Linked DNA regions of Homo sapiens: regions 1 and 2 are each linked to region 3. Evidence: fine-mapped expression QTL. A gene starts in region 3. Each other region holds a variant in brackets. All regions are shown on one strand. Distances are between the middles of the regions. Region 1 overlaps ECPAS (Ecm29 proteasome adaptor and scaffold). Region 2 overlaps PTGR1 (prostaglandin reductase 1). Region 3 holds the start of PTGR1 (prostaglandin reductase 1).

The links. PIP is the estimated chance that this variant, and not a neighbour inherited with it, causes the effect.
Region 1: its variant is the best candidate, but not a certain one, in a credible set for the expression of PTGR1 in thyroid (GTEx, PIP 0.81).
Region 2: its variant is the best candidate, but not a certain one, in a credible set for the expression of PTGR1 in aorta (GTEx, PIP 0.78).

What each region holds. Positions count from the first base shown.
Region 1 is chr9:111,459,521-111,462,374 of GRCh38, reverse strand. All of the region lies in intron 2 of ECPAS (Ecm29 proteasome adaptor and scaffold), which reads left to right. Among named protein-coding and RNA genes, the nearest start is that of ECPAS, 23 kb to the left of the region's middle. The variant A/G (reference allele first, on the strand shown) is at 1,226.
Region 2 is chr9:111,577,565-111,580,064 of GRCh38, reverse strand. It overlaps PTGR1 (prostaglandin reductase 1), which reads left to right. Exons shown (of 10, transcript NM_001146108.2): 7 at 1,114-1,269. It also overlaps a transcript of ZNF483 not described here. Among named protein-coding and RNA genes, the nearest start is that of PTGR1, 21 kb to the left of the region's middle. The variant G/A (reference allele first, on the strand shown) is at 1,453.
Region 3 is chr9:111,597,866-111,600,719 of GRCh38, reverse strand. It overlaps PTGR1 (prostaglandin reductase 1), which reads left to right and starts at 1,073. Exons shown (of 10, transcript NM_001146108.2): 1 at 1,073-1,117. RefSeq lists an enhancer at 650-1,222.

The DNA.
Region 1 (2,854 bases), 140 kb after region 3:
TGTTTCTGATTTTGTATGAGATATATTTGCTGTAGATTTTACATAGATGCTTTTTGTCAGATTATGAAAGTTTCTTTCAGTGACGGTTATTTCCAGCTCCACAGTTATAAACTACTCTTTGGGACAGATTCTGCTAATCATATTTTTCAGACTCCCTTACCATCTAGCTTCTTGTTTTAAGATATCTTTTCCTATCTCGAGGTAATGAGAATATTCTTTATTTCTCTAGAAACTTTATTGTTTTACCTTTGACATTTAGATTTATGATCCATCTGGAATTGATTTTCTTTTTGTTTGATGATATGGTTTGGCTCTGTGTCCCCGTCCAAATCTCATCTTGTAGCTCCCATAATTCCCATGTGCTGTGGGAGGGATGCAGTGGGAGATGATTGAATCATGGGAGTGAGTCTTTCCCATGCTGTTCTCGTGATAGCGAGTGGGTCTTAGGAGATCTGATGGTTTCAGAAACGGGAGTTTGCCTGTACAAGCTGTCCCTTTGCCTGCTGCCATCCATGTTAAGATGTGACTTGCTCCTCCTTGCCTTCTGCCATGATTGAAAGGCTTCCCTATCCACATGGAACTGTAGTTCTCCATTAAACCTCTTTCCTTTGTGAATTCTCTAGTCTTGGATATGTCTTTATCAGCATCATGAAAACGGACTAATAGATATGGTGTGAGGTAGGGATTAAATATTGTTCTCCCATATTGGAATACAGTTGATTTAACACCATTTATTGAAAAGACCATCATTTACTCACTACATTGCAGTGACACCTCTGTTTAAACCAGGTGACTATATACCTGTTTGTCTTTTACACATTTTCTATTTTGTTCAAGTGGTCTACTTATTTTTTGTTAGCATAGTATACTTTTAATTACTGTAGTTTTTATTTTATGTGTTTATTTTTTTGAGACAAGGTCTTGCTCTTTTGCTCAGGCTGGAGTGCAGTGGCATGATCTTGGCTCACTGCAACCTCTACCTCCTGGGCTCAAGCAGTTCTCCCACCTAAGCCTCTCAAGTAGCAGGGACTACAGGTGCACGCCACCACGCCCAGCTAAATTTTTTTTTTTTTTTTTGGTAGAGATGGGGTTTCACCATGTTGCCCAGGCTGGTCTCAAACTCCTGAGCTCAAGCAATCAGCCTGCCTTGCCCTCCCACAGTGCTGGGATTACAGGGCTGAGCCACTGTGCCCAGCCTACTGTAGTTAGCCTTGAAATTTGACCA[A/G]AGTCTTCTAGCTGTTTTTCCTCTTCAAGATAGTTTTGGCAAATCTTGGTCCTTTGCATTTCTTTAAATTATAGAAAGAATCAACTTTTTTTTTTCTTCTAGTGGTATCCACACATTTAAAGATTATTCATCCACTCATTCATTGATTGAGATAGTTAGTATCTTCCTGTGTTGCCCAGGCTGGCCTGGAACCACTATAGGCTCGAGCCACTGTGCCTGGCTCTAGGATCAGCTTTTTAGTGTTACCCAAGTTATCTGATGGATTGTGCTTGGATTATATTGTCTATAGGTCAATTTGGGGAGAATTGACATCTTATTAATATTTTCTAATCTGTGAATATGGTGTATCTTTTAAGTTTTCCTTAATTTCTTGTAGCGGTGTATTTTAGTTTTCTGTGTAGAGGTCTTACACATTTTTCCCTAGATTAATTCCCAGCTATTCGATGTGTTTTGATGTCATTGTAATAGGTGTTTTCAAATTTTGTTTTCTAATGGTTTATTACTATTATATAGGAAACCAATTGATTTGTGTATTTTGTTATTCTATTAATTTTTCCATAGATTGTTTTGGATTTTTTGTGTACCAATCATTATCTTTAAATAATGAAAATATTATTTCTTCCTTTGTAATCTTAATGCATTTTATTTTTCTTTGTCTTATTGCTCTGAATAAAATTTGCAGTACAAATTTGAATAGAATTGGTAATAGTGAACATCTTTACCTTGTTCCTGAACTCAGAGGAAAAGTGTTTGGTATTTTACCTTTAGATATAATGTTTGCTGTAAGTTTTTATAAAAATCTCTTATCAGATTAAGGAAGTTCTCTTTTCTTCCTTGTCTCTTCAACATGAATAGTTTGTTCCCATCTATTTAGCATGAAGAGATGTTGAATTTGATCAAATGCCTTTTCTGTATATATTGAGATGATCATATGATTGTTATTCTCTATTGTGTTAATGTGGCAGATTACACTGATTTTCAATATTAAACCAACTTTGCATCTTTGGAATAAATCCAATTTTTGTATGATGTATTATCCTTTTTATGTATCGCTGGATTTGACTCATATTTTTTACTTATTTTATGTATTATGATTTAAATATTATTTTATTATCTCATTTGCGTCTATATTCATGAGAAATATCTTTTATTTGCTTTTATCTTTCTGGGGATACCCTTGTTTGGTATCAAGGTTATTCTGGCCTCTTAACATTCAGGGATGTGTTCCCCTGCCATCCCTTTACCCCACCTTTTTCTCTTCTCTGGAAGAAGTTATGAAGGAGAATTTACCAGCGAATTCATAAGGTCCTGCCATTTTTTTGTGTGGGGAGGTTTTTAAATAATACAGTTCATATTTGTGGTAATTTAGAATGAACCAGTTTTTTAAAGCAGAATTTATAATTGTGAGTTGTATCATTGTGGTCTGTCTTTAGAAGTAATTAAAAAAGCCCCTTAAAATCATGTAATTATGACTTTGTACTAAGTTATGCCTCCGTATGATGAGCTCTTGTGTCTCTGAGGTATTGTCACATGGGATTTTTAGCTTTCTGGCCTGGCTCAGTTTTCCTTTGGTGGTAGTAAATGGGGTTATTAACATACCTAGCATAGGATTCCTACTCTAGGTGGGAT
Region 2 (2,500 bases), 20 kb after region 3:
AGGGCTCTCTTGCAATAGTTTTTTCTGGAATCATGAAGGAATGGAAAAAGCCTGTGGCCGTCACTATTTGTACAGAGATTCATGTAAATCCAACTGGGGTTTTTCCTCGATTGAAAATGCACAGTGGCACATATTCTGGTCTTCATAATACATTTAGAGTATAAGGGAGCTTTCTGAAAAGCTAGTTTCTATGAACCACTATAATCTGTAGTGTCATCCTGAAAGTGCTTTTCAGAATGCTTCCTAGCTCCTCTGTGATTAGGAAGCGTGTAGTCTGGTGCTTTGGACTAAATCAAAGGATAAAGGGGGCCTGGTGCAGTGGCTCATGCCTGTAATCCGAGCACTTTAGAAGGCTGAGGCAGGAGGATCACTTGAGCCCAGGAGTTCAAGATCAGCCTGGGCACTTTAGGAGGCCAAGGCAGAAGGATCACTTGAGCCTAGGAGTTCGAGATCAGCCTGGGCAATATAGTGAGACCCTGTCTCTGTGAAAATTTAAAAAATATAAGGCCAGATGTAGTGGTATGCACCTGTGGTCCCAGCTACTTAGGAGGCTGAGGTGGGAGGATCACGAGCTTAAGAGGTCAAGGTTGCAGTGAGCCATGTTCGTGCTACTGCACTCCAGCCTGGGCAACAGAGTGAGACCATGTCTCAAAAAAATATAAACATTTAAAAAATCAAAAAAGGATAAGGGGGCAGTTACTAGGAGGGCTGTCTGTGATGTGGGAGTCACAGAGCTGAGACAAAATAATAGTCTGAAGAATGACTGTACCAAGAGATGGCATACACTGCATTGCAAGGAAGAGAAGCCCAGAAACAAAGAACCAAGGAAGTCAAATGGATCGGTTGTGAAACCAGCTGGTGGAACTATGAACCAAATAAATGCAGAAGGGACCTGCTGGGTGGTCAGAAGCAAGCTGAAGCTGAGTTGTAGGATGGTCCGGGGACTGATTTCACCTATGGGATCTGTTGGCCCATTATGGTATTCCTTTTATATGTGGCTCAGCACCTAAGAGAGTGTTCCTAGGGAACCTAGGCATACGAGACCAGGAAAGTAGTGTTGGTCCATGCTTGTGACTTATTCATGGTTTCCTTTTTTTTTTTTTTTCTACTTAGGGCTGCAAAGTTGTTGGAGCAGTAGGGTCTGATGAAAAGGTTGCCTACCTTCAAAAGCTTGGATTTGATGTCGTCTTTAACTACAAGACGGTAGAGTCTTTGGAAGAAACCTTGAAGAAAGCGTCTCCTGATGGTTATGATTGTTATTTTGATAATGTAAGTACAAACTGGACTTAATATCTAATTTATTATGGAAGTACTATATAAAGCAGGAGTCTCCTACCCCTGGGCCATGGATGGTTAGTGGTCCATAGCCTATCAGGAACTGGGATGCACAGCAGGAGGTGAGGGGCAGGTGAGCAAGCAAAGCTTCATCTGTATTTACAGCCCTTCCCCATT[G/A]CTCCCATTACTGCCTGAGCTCCGCCTCTTCTCAGAACAGTGGCAGCATTAGATTCCCATAGAAGTGTAAACCCTGTTGTGAACTATGCATGTGAGGGATCTAGGTTGTGCGTTCCTTATGGAGATCGCACTACTCAGGTGCCTGATGATGCCTGATGCCTAATGATCTGTCACTGTCTCCCATCACCCCCAGATGGGACCGTCTAGTTGCAGGAAAACTCACCCACTGATTCTATGGTTATGGTGAGTTGTATAATTATTTCATTGTATATTACATTGCAATAATAATAGAAATAAAGTGCACAATAAACACAATGTACTTGAATCATCCTTGAAACCATCCCCCCAACAATCGATGGAAAAATTGTCTTCCAATGAAACTGCTCCCTGGTGCCAAAAAGGTTGAGGACCGCTGATACAAGGGAATATATTCCTAGAGTTTCCATTTTGGGGTACATGAAGAAAGTATATATGCCTTTTTTAAAAAACAGCTTTATTGAGATATCATTCATGTACCATGTAATTCACTCATTTAACGTGTAGAAGTCAATGTTTTTTACTATATTGGCAAAATTGTACAACCAGTTTAAGAATATTTTCATCACCCCCCCCAAAAAACGCTACTCATTAGCAGTCACTCTCCATTACCACCCTCCTCCCCACTAAAAGTGGTCTCTTATGACTGGCATCTTTCACTTAGCAAAATGTTTTCAAGTTTCATCCATATCATAGAATTTATCAGTGCTTTATTCCTTTTTTTTGTTTTTTGAGACAGGATCTCACTCTGTCACCTAGGCTGGAGTGCAGTGGTGTGATCGTGGCTCACTGCAGCCTCGACCTCCCTCGCTCAAGCAATCCTTCCACCTCAGCCTCCCAAGTAGCTGGGACTATAGGGATGTGCCACCACACGCAACTAATTTTTATATTTTTAGTAGAGATGGGGTTTCGCCATGTTGCCCAGGCTGGTCTGGAACTCCTGGGCTCAAGCAAACCTCCCAACTCGGCCTCCCAAAGTGCTAGGATTACAGGCGTGAGCCACCACACCCAG
Region 3 (2,854 bases):
GGGCCTGTAATCCCAGCTTCTAGGGAGGCTGAAGGAGGATCACCTGAGTCCAGGAGTTCAAGGCTGCAATGAGCTATGATGCCCACCATTGCACTCCAGCCTGGGTGACAGAGCAAGACCTCAAAATAATTAAAATTAAATAAATAAATTAAAGACATTGAATCTTCACAATGACTGGAAGTTAGGCATTCTTCTTATCCCCATCTTGCAGATGGCTGAACTGAGTGAGGCAAGGAGAAGGTAAGTAAGTCTTTGAAAGCTACACCACTAGTAAGTGGCAGGTGCAGGCTTCGAACCTGCAGTCGTCTAATACCAACGACTTAGCTTCACGTTCAACCCCTGCCTGAGACCACCTCTCCTTGCAGAAGCCAGGTCAAGGCCTGATGTTTGCTAGGGTGTGATGGGTGGGGTGCCTCAGTGGCAAGAGTGCTCACTCCTGCCTGGGGGAGTCTGGCAAGGGTTCACAGAGGTGACCTTGAATTGGCTGGTGGAAGGCGAGTAGGTGTTCAGCAGGCGGACTGGGGACAGACAGGCAGGGTGTCTGCACCGCAGCCCTGGGCGAAAGCTTGCACTGCGGGCAAGCGGCAGGGCTGACGGGGAGCCCAGGGATCGGAGCCAGCACCGGGGGCTTATTAGGGCTGCGGCCGCCCCAGGCCCTGCCTTTGGACCCTTCCGGCCTGCTTGGCAGATGCCACGGTTGGTTCCCCCACGGGGCATATTTCCGCCGGGCTCCAACTTAGGACCCCAGGCGGAGGTCCAGTGTCAGCTGGACAAAGCTCTGTTAGGAATTTTCCTATCAGGAGTCCCTAACCCCCTACACGCACACACACGGGCGCGCGGGCGCGCACGCACACACACGCACACATGCACACATACGCGCGCGCACATGCACATAGGCACACAGAGATACGCGCACACACACACACAAACGCACTCAGATTTCCCGGACCCTGGTTTTCCTCCTGTGACCCTTTCGGGGCCGGGCTCTCACCCTAAAGAAGCAGCCCCGCCCTGGGGTGGCCCCACCCTCTCTTGGGACCTGTCATAAGTCGGACCCCGGGCGCCCGGCTGCGCAGTCCCAGCCGCCTTCCCCAGGCAGTGGAACCTTCGGGCTCCTGTAAGTAGACCTCCTGCTTTCTTTCCTTCCCTTTTCTCCCTCCTCTAACCCCCTTGCTTTCTTCCTGCCAAGTTTCTAGACGCCCCAGTGGAGGAGGTTTGCTCTTAGACCTCCTCCCCTTACGTCGAAATGACCGCTGGGTCTTGCACTCGGAGGATCTTGGGAGCCGACGTCCCGACGCCTCCCGCCCCCGCAGTTCCTTGGAGAGCTTGGAGCCGCGCGCCGGAGGGAATAGGAAAGCTTGGTTACAACCCGGGACACCCGGTAGCTTCCTGCACCCGGGAGGGGGCTGGCCAGGGAACTTGCTGGACTGCACAACTGGGGGAGGGTAGAAGAAGAAAGATCGGGGTGGGGATTCGGGAATGGGCAAGCGGGCGGCGGGCGGCGGGAGGCGAGGGTGGGAGCAAAGGGCGAGCGGGCAAAGGCCGGGCGCCGCGCCAGGCCCCCTCCTCGGGCGGGCGAGACTTTCCCGGGACCTGGCCCCTCTGCGGCCAGACCCTTTCCAGGAGGGCTTCTGGACTTGTAGCGAGTTTGGAAGCCCAGCGGTTGCTTTTTTGGGGAAAGGGACAAAGATGTGTGAACTCTAAAGAAGTTGAACTCATAGAAATAACGACTAGAATGATGGTTGCCAGAGGCTGGGAGCGGGTTCGGGGGGGAATGGGGGCTTGTTGGCCAAAGGGTACGAAGTTCAGAGACGAGAGGAGTAGGTTCTGAGATCTGTTGCACAGCAGAGTGACTAGAGCCAATAATGTGTATTTCGAAATAACAGAGTAAACTGCAAATGTCTCACCGTAAAAATGATACGTAGGGCCTGGCGCGGTGGCTCACGCCTGTAATCCCAGCACTATGGAAGGTCGAGGCGGGCGAATCATTTGAGCTCAGGAGTTCTAGACCAGTCTGGCCAACATGGGGAAACCCCGTCTCTACTAAAAGTACAAAAATTAGCTGGGCGTGGTGGCGGGCGCCTGTAATCCCAGCTACTCAGGAGGCTGAGACAGGAGAACCGCTTGAACCCGGGAGACGGAGGTTGCAGTGAGCTGAGATCGCGCCATTGCACTTCAGCCTGGGCGACAGAGCGAGACTCCGTCACAAAAAAAGTCTTAATTTTAAAAAAAGAAAAGAAGGAACAACCCCGGGCTGCAGATCAGACCGCCCCCCTGGCTCCCTCGCAATGCGGGAGTGCTCCCTCCAGGTCACCGTGTCCCCTCCCGCGGCACCGGTAGGGGAGCTGGGGAGATCACTGGCAGCTCCAAATGGTTTCGTAACTGGATTGTTTGTAGCGGATGCACCCGCGGGAAGGCGCAGGTCCCAAGTGATTCGGCAGAGTTCAGTCCAAGCAGAACATCCTGAACCCCCAGCTCGGGGCAGCCTTCATCATCTTCCCTTGCTTTGGTGCAGCGTTTCAGCTCAAAATCGGTTTGGTGTGGAGTTTAAACTCAAATCCCTACTGGGCCAAAGAAAATTCGCACCCGATGGCTGAGTGCAAGTGGTTCACACCTGTAATCCCAGCACTTTGGGAGACCGAGGCGGGCGGATCGCCTAGGCAACACAGTGAGGCTCCTCTCTACAAGAAAAGAGAGAAAAAAAAGTATTTAAAAAAAAAAAAAACGCACCTGAAAATGGGGCGGAGCAGCGGCGCCCTCCGGTGGTTTTCAGGAGTTCTGAGACTGCCTTGAAATGCGTGGCTGTTTCCATCTGAAAGAGGTGCATGGACTTCTATCTATTGGGTTCTTTGTG